Linked DNA regions of Homo sapiens: region 1 is linked to region 2. Evidence: fine-mapped expression QTL. Tissue or cell type: whole blood. Region 2 holds a variant in brackets; the other region holds the start of a gene. All regions are shown on one strand. Distances are from middle to middle.

Region 1 (5,224 bases), 26 kb after region 2:
TTTAAAAAAAGTTTTAAGAACATCACTGGCTTTCAGTCCTATAGGTATTTTCTTGCCAATCTCATTGATTTTTTGCTGTTATATAACAGCTTCATGAAAATAGGACATCTGGCCAGGAATGGTGGCTCATGCCTGCAATCTCAGCACTTTGGGAGGCCCAGGTAGGGGGACCGCTTGAGCCCAGGAGTTTGAGACCAGCCTGGGGAACATAGCTAGACGCTCCTGTCTCTGCAAAATATAAAAAAATTAGCTAGGCATGGTGGCCCATGCCTGTAGTCCTAGCTACTTGGGAAGCTAAGGTGGGAGGACCCCTTGAACCCAGAAGGTCAAGGCTGCAGTGAGCCATAATCATGCCACTGCACTCCAGCCTGGGTAACAGAGCAACACCCTGAAAAGACAAAAAGAAAGGAAGGAAGGAAGGAAGGAAGGAAGGAAGGAAGGAAGAGAGAGAGAGAGAGAGAATGGGAGGGGAGGGGAGGGAGGGGAGGGGAGGACAGGGGAGGGGAGGGGAAGAGAAGGGAAGGGAAGGGAGGGGAAGGGTAGGGAAGGGAGAGGAAGGGTGGGGAAGGGTGGGGAAGGGGAAAATAGGACATCTATGCTGTCTTTTTCTCTTCAAAGAAGGTAACCTGACACCACTTCTAACCAGCAGAAAATAACAACGCGGTCAACAGAATTATTTTGGATAGTCTAAGTAACAGTAGATAGTCTCTGTAAGTAGAAATCCACTTATCCGTTTATTATCATTTTTTTTTTTTTTTTGGAAATGGAGTCTCACTGTGTCGCCCAGACTGGAGTGCAGTGGCGGGATCTTGGCTCACTGCAACCTCCACCTCCCAGGTTCAAGTGATTCTCCTGCCTCAGCCTCCTGAGTAGCTGAGACTACAGGCAGGTGCCACTATGCCTGGCTAATTTTTGTATTTTTAGTAGAGACAGGGTTTCACCATGTTGGTCAGGCTGGTCTCGAACTCCTGACCTCAGGTGATCCGCCCGCCTTGGCCTCCCAAAGGGCTGTGATTACAGGCGTGGGCCACTGCGCCTGGCCTGTTAATTCTATCTACTTTAAAACCTAGTAGAGCTAAGCCCACTAGACAAAAGCTTTCATTAATCACTTCTGATATTCAGGTAAACCAAAACATATGAACAGGCAATGGCTTTGAGTTCTCATACAGCCTCAATTATGTGTTAGTCAACTCAAGCATCCATTATGTACTCAATAATAGGTATGACACAGCTCTGGACCTCATTAACACTATAAGCAGACAGGCACAGGCAGCCTGCATACACTCCTTTTCCTGGTGTCAACATTATTTAAAAGCATGGGAAATAGTAATGAGACAGTGTCTTCTTCATTAGAACCTTAGGAGTCTACTAGATTTCTTCATCTCTATTTGTTGTTATTAGTAGCCAAACTGTGCAAAAAACACGGTCTTGAGAAATGACAGCACAGTATCTTAGAGGGAAAGGAAATGTAGGATGCCAGTGTGGGGACAAATTTCTGATTGCCAGTGATTGTTGTGAGCATAACAATAATTTCATGAACATTAAAGCCTCTATTGAGGGCAGCTGCAGTTGTAAAGGAAAAAAAATGGTCCTGAACATTTAAAACTACACTGGTGTACATCATAATCAAACAAAGTAAACAGAAAAAAATTTAAACTTTGCTAAAAAAAAAAAGCAGAAGCACTTGATCTTTAGGAAGGCACGCAGTTGCTTATTATGAATCATTTCTAGAGTCCGATGCATTTTCAAAGCCGGTTACAGTCATTACGAAGCACACCCTTGTGAGGTAAGTGTATCATCACCTTTGGTTCATAAATAAAAAAGCTGAGACGCCGAGCGATTAAGTCACTCGCCTAAGGAGAATGAGTCAACGTCAAGAGTCATAGTTGACCCGGCCTAAAGACTCCAGACCATCAGTCCAGGGCTTAGTCAGCGGGGCCCGGAGTGGCTTCCCTGGCTGGCATCTGGACTTAGGCTATTTCCGTGCACGTAAAAGCGGAATATTGGAACGGTTGCACAGAACTTCCAAATAATTTTTACCGCCACGCAAGATTTAGCCCTGAGGTCTTAATCTCAGGATTTGGGACAGTAAAAGCTGTCGTCCCTCCCCCTCGTCCAGCCGGTGGCAAGCGGGTACTGCGGGCGGTTCCGTCCGTCCCCTTTCGCAGAAATGGCAACGAATGACCACCAGCATTAGCTGAGCCAGGGGACGTGGGAGGGTTGATTGCCTAAACGACTCTGCATCGCCGCCTCTTTTTGAAACTAAGAGAAAATGGTGGGAGATCAAAAGAAAACTAAATAAACACACAGGCAACTTGTCCTGGGACCTCAACTAAGCAAATGAAGCCTTATTGTGTGTGCTGAGCCTGCAGTTCCCAACCTTCCGGGGAAGATGGGAGGACAGGGCGACAAAGGGCACAGTAGGCTTGCCTGGCAGTAAGTGTGACCGCAGCTATCCAGGCGGAAGAGCAGAGGACTGAAACCACCCTCCAGCAAGCGAGTGTCCGCCGCGTTGAGAACCGCGCACCCTACCCATCGGCCACGTGACCAGTCCTTTTTAAAAAAAATTTCTTTACCTTAAAAAAAAAAAAAAAAAAAAGGTGGGGGAGAGACTCCACTTCCCAGAAGCCTCTCGTTACTCACGCAGCCGCAGTCTTGCGCAGGTGCCGCCAGGGCCAAACGGACATATCCGTCACGTGGCCAGAAGCTGGCCAATCCGGTTTGAATCTCATTTTTTTCCTCTTACCCCCCCTTCTGGAGCGGTTGTGCGATCAGATCGATCTAAGATGGCGACTGTCGAACCGGTGAGTATTGCCTTTGGCCCCCACCCCCACGGGTCCCCGCGCTCCGTCTTCCTTCTGACTGGGGGACTCCGCGGGACGGCGTTCCCGGCGCGCACTGTACCCCTTGCCGCCCCTTCCCCTTCATGTTGGACCTGACCTCCCGCGGACAAGTGGGGACGTCCCGGAGGATGGCCGAGGCGGCGTGTAGCGCACACTTTCTGGTGGGGGCCCGAGAACTGGGGGAGCGGTGTGGGGGAGGGGCGGCGTGGCGCCTCCTGCGGAACCGCGAGGTGTCTACAGGGTGGAGGGTAGCTGGGGTTCTGGGCTGGGTATGCGAGGATGGTGTCTTCATGATAGGAAGGCGCAGGGCCGGCTCCCAGCGAGTACTGGGATCCGCAGGCAGGGTGGGCGGCGAGCCGGCCTGGAGTGAGATGGAGGAGGGAGCCCTGGAGCAGCCTTTCCCTCCCTGCAGAACCCCAGCTCCGGGGCTCGGGTGCGGGGCGCGCGCACGTCTTCCTTAGACCGGTGGACTGGGGAGCTGGTGGGCGAGTGTTGCCGGAGGGTGGGTTAGGCGGGAGTGGTGCCGCGGCACGCGCGGAGGAGCTTCGACCTCGCTTAGGGGAGTTGAGAGGGGCGAGCGTCTGTTAATCCAGCGCGCCGGAGAGTTGCCGGTGTTTGCGCCAGGGGAAGCGAGAAAGGTCTGGGGTGGGAAGGAACACTCGTGTGTCACGGTGAAGCTCTCCAAGTAGAATGAGGGATGGTGGTGGTGAGAAGGGGTATCACATTGTCCTCGCCCCTCCATGCTTGGGACTGGGCTGTCATGGAGGAGGGAAGGGGGAGGAGCGAGGCCTACAGATCGCTGTAGCCGGTCGGCTTGCCGGCCGGACCTGCTGCATTTCACACGCGCCCGTCTTCCATTCATTCATCCTTTCCGCGTAGTGCGCACGCCTCAGAGAATGCGAATGGGTCTCAATCCCTCTGTTCTTCCGAGTCTTTATCTCCTGGAAGATTTCTGAGACGCAGTTTATTGGAAATAGAAACTTTTAAATTTACTTTTCCATTTGACTTTTTTTTTCTCTTTATCTATGCTACAGACTTTCATTTCAATTTAGGCACCATTTTAAACTTAACTGAAGCAAGCTGGTCCCAGGGTAGGTTTGTAGTTAATCTTTAAGCAGAGGGTATATTTTTCATAATTTGGGTTTGCCAGGACTGGCTCACTGAAACTTCTGGGCCCTGTTGCCTTTTTAGAAACGACACAGCTAAGTGAAGATATCTTGTGTGCATAATGGGGTTTATTAGCAATCAGAAAACCTTTCACACTCTGGAACCAGCTCTAGACCTTGGTTGCCAGATACTTTTGTGTATCTTTTCATGGTAGCTTGTGGTTTTGCTAATGGTTTACCAGTTTGCTTTGACTTTTAAAGACTTTTTTTTTTTTTTTTTTTTTTTTTTTTTTTTGAGATGGAGTCTTGCTTTGTCGCCCAGGCTGGAGTGCAGTGGCGTGATCTCGGCTCACTGCAACCTCCGCCTCCGGGTTCAAGCGATTCTCCTGCTTCAGCCTCTTGAGTAGCTGGGATTACAGGTGCGCACAACCGTGCCTGGCTAATTTTTGTATTTTTAGTAGAGACGGGGTTCCACCATGTTGGCCAGGCTGGTCTGAAACTCCTGACCTCAAGTGATCCTCCCGCCTCAGCCTCCCAAAGTGCTGGGATTACAGGCGTGAGCCACAGCACCCGGCACTTTTAAAGACTTTTATAAAACTATTTCAAAAACTCTTATAGACTACACAAAGGCTTATTTTTCATTGCGTTGGTGTAAACTATCCTTACCTTGTCAAAATTCAAGGCAGCTTCTCTGCTTGCTTACTTGTTTTTTTATTGGCACCAGTTTTCATTTATGTTCCTGGGAATTAAATTGACTGAAAAACTCATAAGTTGTTGCTACAGTTAACTGACTTTAGGACATTAATATTACATAACACTAATGAAGAATAAGTATGTAAAATATACATTTTAAACCCCTTGACAGGTTCTGATGTCCACTTTTGTCTAGATCTGTTCCTACCCCACTACACTAGTGTCAGTAAAAAGCATTACATCTGGTAATAGGGGCAAGGCTACGAGACTGTAAACTATAAAACAATAAGGAGTTCTGTGAGGTTTCTGTCACATTTAGGTCCCTTGAGTTTTGCAGAGTTTATGCAGTTTTGTTTCAGCAGCACAGAGCGGAACTGCAAAGTGATGAAGGACTATATTTTGAGTTAGTAAATATTAATAGCTCCTGATATATCCAGGGTGTTGTACCAAGTGTTCTTTAGGATACAAAGTTATACAAGATGTGAGTCTTGTTGAATGTAAACCCTTAAGGAACTTAATTCCTAGGGATGTGGTTAGTGATACAGTATTTGTTCTGGTACAGACTTTGGGAGATTTGGATGT
Region 2 (5,224 bases):
GTGAGCCGAGATTGCGCCACTGCAGTCCGCAGTCCCACCTGGGCGACAGAGCGAGACTCCGTCTCAAAAAAAAAAAAAAAAAAAAAAAAAGAAAGTGTAAAGCTTAAATCTTTTTTTCCCATCTTACTCCTTTTATTATACAGCAAAACACCCTTAGTGTGAAATTAATGGTTAGATATATAAATATGAGGGATAACATGAGAAAATCTAGGAGAAAAAAAAAATCCTCATTTAAATCTGAGATTGTGGGATTATCAGCTCCAATTAGCCTTAATCAGCAACTTACCTATTTTTATTTATTTATTTTTTGTAACAGAGTTTCACTCTGTCACCCAGGCTATAGTGCAGAGGCATGATCTCAGCTCACTACAACCTCCGCCTCCCAGGTTCAGGCTATTCTCCTGCCTCAGACTCCCCAATAGCTGGGATTACAGGCACCTGCTACCATGCCTGGCTAATGTTTGTATTTTTAGTAGAGACGGGGTTTCGCTACATTGGCCAGGCTCGAACTCCTGGTCTCGAACTCGCGACCTCTGGTGATCCACCTGCCTCGGCCTCCCAAAGTGCTGGGATTACAGACATGAGCCACTGCGCTTGGCCTCTATTTTTTTTTTTTAAATGCACAAATAAGACAACCTTGATAATTTAACTTTTAAATTGGCAATTGAAGCTCTAGGGTATCCTTAACTTTTTTAAAAGATCATTTTAAACCAAAGCACTAATTCAACACACAGCAGAAATGGTACAAATTTCAGATTTGGCTTTTGCTGAATAGAGCCTAAGAATGAAGAAACATTTCTCTTTTCCAGATTATTTAAGTAATTTAAAATATAAATAATTGCATTAAGTCTCACTGAGCAGAGAATGTGAAAGTTCCTGGTATAAAAAAATAAAACCCTTAGGGTTTGAAGTTTGATAGTCATTTCATTTTGTAGTAGAAAAGAGACGAGATTTTGTTTGCTTTCCATAATTACTTCACTGTCTCCCTCCATTTCAAAATTGAGATTCCCAAATGAACTGAATACCACTGTCCCTGGTTGATCTGTCTGAACAATGGAATCAGTCTGCAATTTATTCTGTTGGGGTTTTTTTTTTTTTTTTTTTTGAGACAGAGTCTCACTCTGTCATCAGGCTGGAGTGCAGTGGCACAATCTCAGCTCACTGCAACCTCTGCCTCCAGGGTTCAAGCGATTCTTCCGCCTCAGCCTCCCAAGTAGCTGGGACTACAGGGGCGCACCACCACACCCAGCTAATTTTTGTATTTTTAGTAGAGATGGGGTTTCACCACGTTGACCAGGATGGTCTCGATCTCTTGACCTCGTGATCCGCCAGCCTCAGCCTCCCAAAGTGCTGGGATTACAGGCGTGAGCCACCACACCTGGCCTTATTCTGTTGATATTGTCTTTCTGCTCATACAGACATTCTCCTCCTCTTCCTCCTCCTCCTCTGTTGGTAATGTCTTTCTGCTTCTGTAGACATCCTATTTTTCTCCTCCTCTTCCTTCACTCCACCTCCTCCACCTCCTTCTTCTTCTGGGTCAAGAGTAGGCAAAACATCTTTCCTCTCTAGGCCATCAACTTCATCTTCATCTGTGCTGTATTCCTTCATTGTGTCATCACTAACAAAGAGGATGGCTCTCCTTGGGACTTTCTTCTTTCCTTGTATCACTCCCAGTTCTACATTTTCAAAGCCTCTTTTGTCACTCATCCAATCTCATATTTCCCCATGAGATAAAATTTGGTTTATGGTTGTCCTGACATCAACGGTTCCTTTTGGACCATCTAAAGTTTAAATCTTTTAAGTGGCGTTTTATGGGAACACATCAGAGGACAAATTGACTAAACAAGTCAGAGATGGCTTCATGGAGAACGCGAAAATTAAGCTGAGCTCAAAGGCCAAATAAACAGCAAGCGGGCAAATATTCAGGTATGTAGAGATTTAATCTGTGATTTGAGATGAAGAGTAGGCTGAGTGTGGTGGCTCACGCCTGTAATCCCAGATTTTGGGAGGCTGAGGTGGGCGGATCACAAGGTCAGGAGATCAAGACCATCCTGGGTAACACAGTGAAACCCCATCTCCACTAAAAAAAAAAAGAAAAAAAAATTAGCCGGGTGTGGTGGCATGCGCCTGTAGTCCCAGGTGCTCAGGAGGCTGAGAGAGGAGAATCCCTTGAACCCAGGAGGCAGACATTGCAGTGAGCCGAGATTTTGCCACTGTACTCCAGCCTGGGAGACAGAGTGAGATTCTGTCTCGAATGAATAAATAAATAAATAAATAAGTAAATAAATAAATAAATAAATAAAATAAGATGGAGAGTAAATCGAATGGAGGATGTGCCTGACACTGTCCATTTAGCCTTTGGCTTCCCTCCCCACTGTGCTCCATTCTTCTCCATAATGCTTTGTGCCCTGGGAAGCTTAACTGCATTGGTGGACTTGTTTATCCTCTGGATTCGAGATGGCTTTAGCTAGCTTGGAGATAAGAGGGTGGGGAGAGAGTGAAGTATTCGAGATCTTTATTCCTTTGGCCCCTTCCCTACCATGTTTCCATGGCTCACTCACTCTCTCTACTGAAGTCCGCAACTTTTGTCTAGAGTCCTGCTCTGTACACTTCTCTCTCTGGTTTCTGGCAGAGTTCCTTCCCCTCAGCCTTCATACCTAGATATTCGGTTGCAACAGTCCCCCACCCACCCTAAAGCCAGCCTGGGAATACTATACCATGTCCTATTGGCTCCCTAAACTTTGCCCATGTCTGCAAATAATTACCTTACTAAAAATCTCCTATAATTACGCAGGTTAATATGCCATCCATTTATTGCTGTTACCTTAATACTGTTGCTGTGATTACAGGAATAATTTAATATGCCTCTACATTTTCATAATTGTGAAATCACAATGTATCTTATCACTGATGCGTAGGTTCCATTGTGCCTCTTGGTCCCTGACCCAAAAGCTTTTGCTAAATCAATGACATATAATCATAATATATAGTCTATAATCA[A/C]TGGCATGTTAGAATTGAGGAACTATGGTATATAGTGAAAGATACTCTAGTGAAGGGCTGAAAAGGGCCATCTCATGTTCTTGTGGAAAAAAAGACCATTTGAATTTTACTCCATAGGCAACCGAGAGCAATTCCTTGGCTTCTAGAACAGAGTGCCATAATTAGGCTTGTGATATTAAAAAAAAATAAACTTTCGACAGTACGAAGAGTGGACTGAATATAGAGGTCTGAATACAGGAAGGCCAATTAGGCTGCTGTTGCAATAATTCAGATGAAAAGCAGTGAAGGTCCAAGTAGGGCAATTAGAGTAGAAATAAAGAGGATGAGATAGATATAACAGCCTGATGAGCTGCTACAGTTGCAAGAAAAAGTGTTTAAATCATGATAGCTCAAGTATTGGGTTTATGACCTACAGGAAATCTGAAAGGATAGGTACAGACCCACAAAGCTTCCTTCTCCTAGGTGCTAGGAACAATAGCACCATCTACGTGGAAACTAGGGAAGAGTTCTCAACCTTATACTAATAACTTTTTTTTTTGAGATAGGGTCTCTCTATATCATCCAGGCTGGTCTCAAACCGCTGGGCTCAAGTAATCCTTCCAACATACCAAGAACTATGAAGGCCATAAGACAATAACAATTAAAACTGGATGATAGACCGGGCATGGTGACTCATGCCTTCAAAACCCAGCACTTTGGGAGGCTGAAGCAGAAGGATCACTTGAGCCCAGAAGTTCAAGACCAGCTTGGGCAACATAGTGAGACTCCGTCTCTATTCTAAAAAAATGGAATAAAAATAACATAAAAAAATGAAACTGGATGATGGGTAAATGAGATTTATTGTTATTCCTCCAGCTTTTGTTTAATGTTTGGAGTTTTTTATATTAAAAAATTAAAAAAATTTTTTTAAACTTTGAGAAACATCTCTCAAATACCGAAGAATTTGGACTAAATTGAAGAAAAAATAGAGAGACAAAAACATTAGAGGTTAGGAACACAGTCTCTGAGCAAGACTGAGTTCATTTCTAAATCAGAAACCAAGACCCACAAAATACTCAAGCTTCCCATAGCTTCAGCCCTCTTCCTCTCTCTCTTAAGCCATAGAAGGGGATAATCCTAATTCTAAAACTTACAAAGCCTTGACTATGTACCAGGAACCATTTCATACATCTTACAAGCATTAACTCATTCAATCCTAACTAGTCTCCTGTTACAGATAAGGAAACTGAGCCACAGAAAAGTTCAGAAGTCCAAGGGCAGCTGGGCGCAGTGGCTCACACCTGTAATCCCAGCACTTTGGGAGGCTGAGGCAAGTGGATCATGAGGTCAGGAGATCGAGACCATCCTGGCCAACATGATGAAACCCCATCTCTACTAAAAATACAAAAATTAGCTGGGTGTGGTGGTGCGTGCCTGTAATCCCAACTACTTGGAAAGCTGAGGCATATGAATCACTTGAACCCAAAAGGCGGAGGTTGAGGTTGCAGTGAGCTGAGATCACGCCACTGCACTCCAGCCTGGTGACAGAGCAAGACTCTGTCTCAAAAAAAAAAAAAAAAAAAAAAAAGAAAAGAAAAAGAGAGAGAGAGAAAAAAGAAGTCCAAGGGCACACAGATGGTAAGCAACAGACACAATCAGACATTCTGGTTCCAGAAGGTGAGTTTGTACATACTACATATCACAGAGTATAGTGTAGATGTTATTACAAAGAGAATATACCCATTTCTAATATTATGGTACAGTTTACAGTTCCCAGGTAAAAAGAGAGTGGACAGTCAAGCAGAATTCACCAACACTTTTTGGGTGAAAAGCAGATTTGGACAGAACTGCTCATAAATGAACCATGGAAAAAGTCTACTATAATAAACAAGTACACAAACTAAAAGAAAGAAAACATCATGGTACTATTGGATAATAGTTCAGAAAAAATACAGGTTTTTACATAAAAGTTTTTATATAACACATTATATAAGGGTTTTTATATAACACATTAAACCAAAAAAATTGCTAAATAATCCAAAGATTTAAACTTAAGATCTAAAAACATGAAACTGCATAAAAAATAATTAAATACACACACACACTCTCAGTGTGCAGATGGGTGGATTAAAAAAAAATATATAAATAGGGCCAGGTGCAGTAGCTCATGTGTAAGTGCCTGTAATCCTAGAACTTTGGGAGGTTCACAAGGCAGGAGGATCACTTGAGCCAGGAGTTCCAGACC

The links. PIP is the estimated chance that this variant, and not a neighbour inherited with it, causes the effect.
Region 1: it holds the start of EIF4E, and the variant in region 2 is fine-mapped to the expression of EIF4E in whole blood (INTERVAL, PIP 0.99).

What each region holds. Positions count from the first base shown.
Region 1 is chr4:98,926,675-98,931,898 of GRCh38, reverse strand. EIF4E (eukaryotic translation initiation factor 4E) reads left to right here and starts at 2,766. Exons shown (of 7, transcript NM_001968.5): 1 at 2,766-2,804. The coding sequence starts at 2,787. RefSeq lists an enhancer at 1,173-2,372.
Region 2 is chr4:98,952,483-98,957,706 of GRCh38, reverse strand. It overlaps the pseudogene FAM177A1P1. Among named protein-coding and RNA genes, the nearest start is that of EIF4E, 26 kb to the right of the region's middle. The variant A/C (reference allele first, on the strand shown) is at 3,001.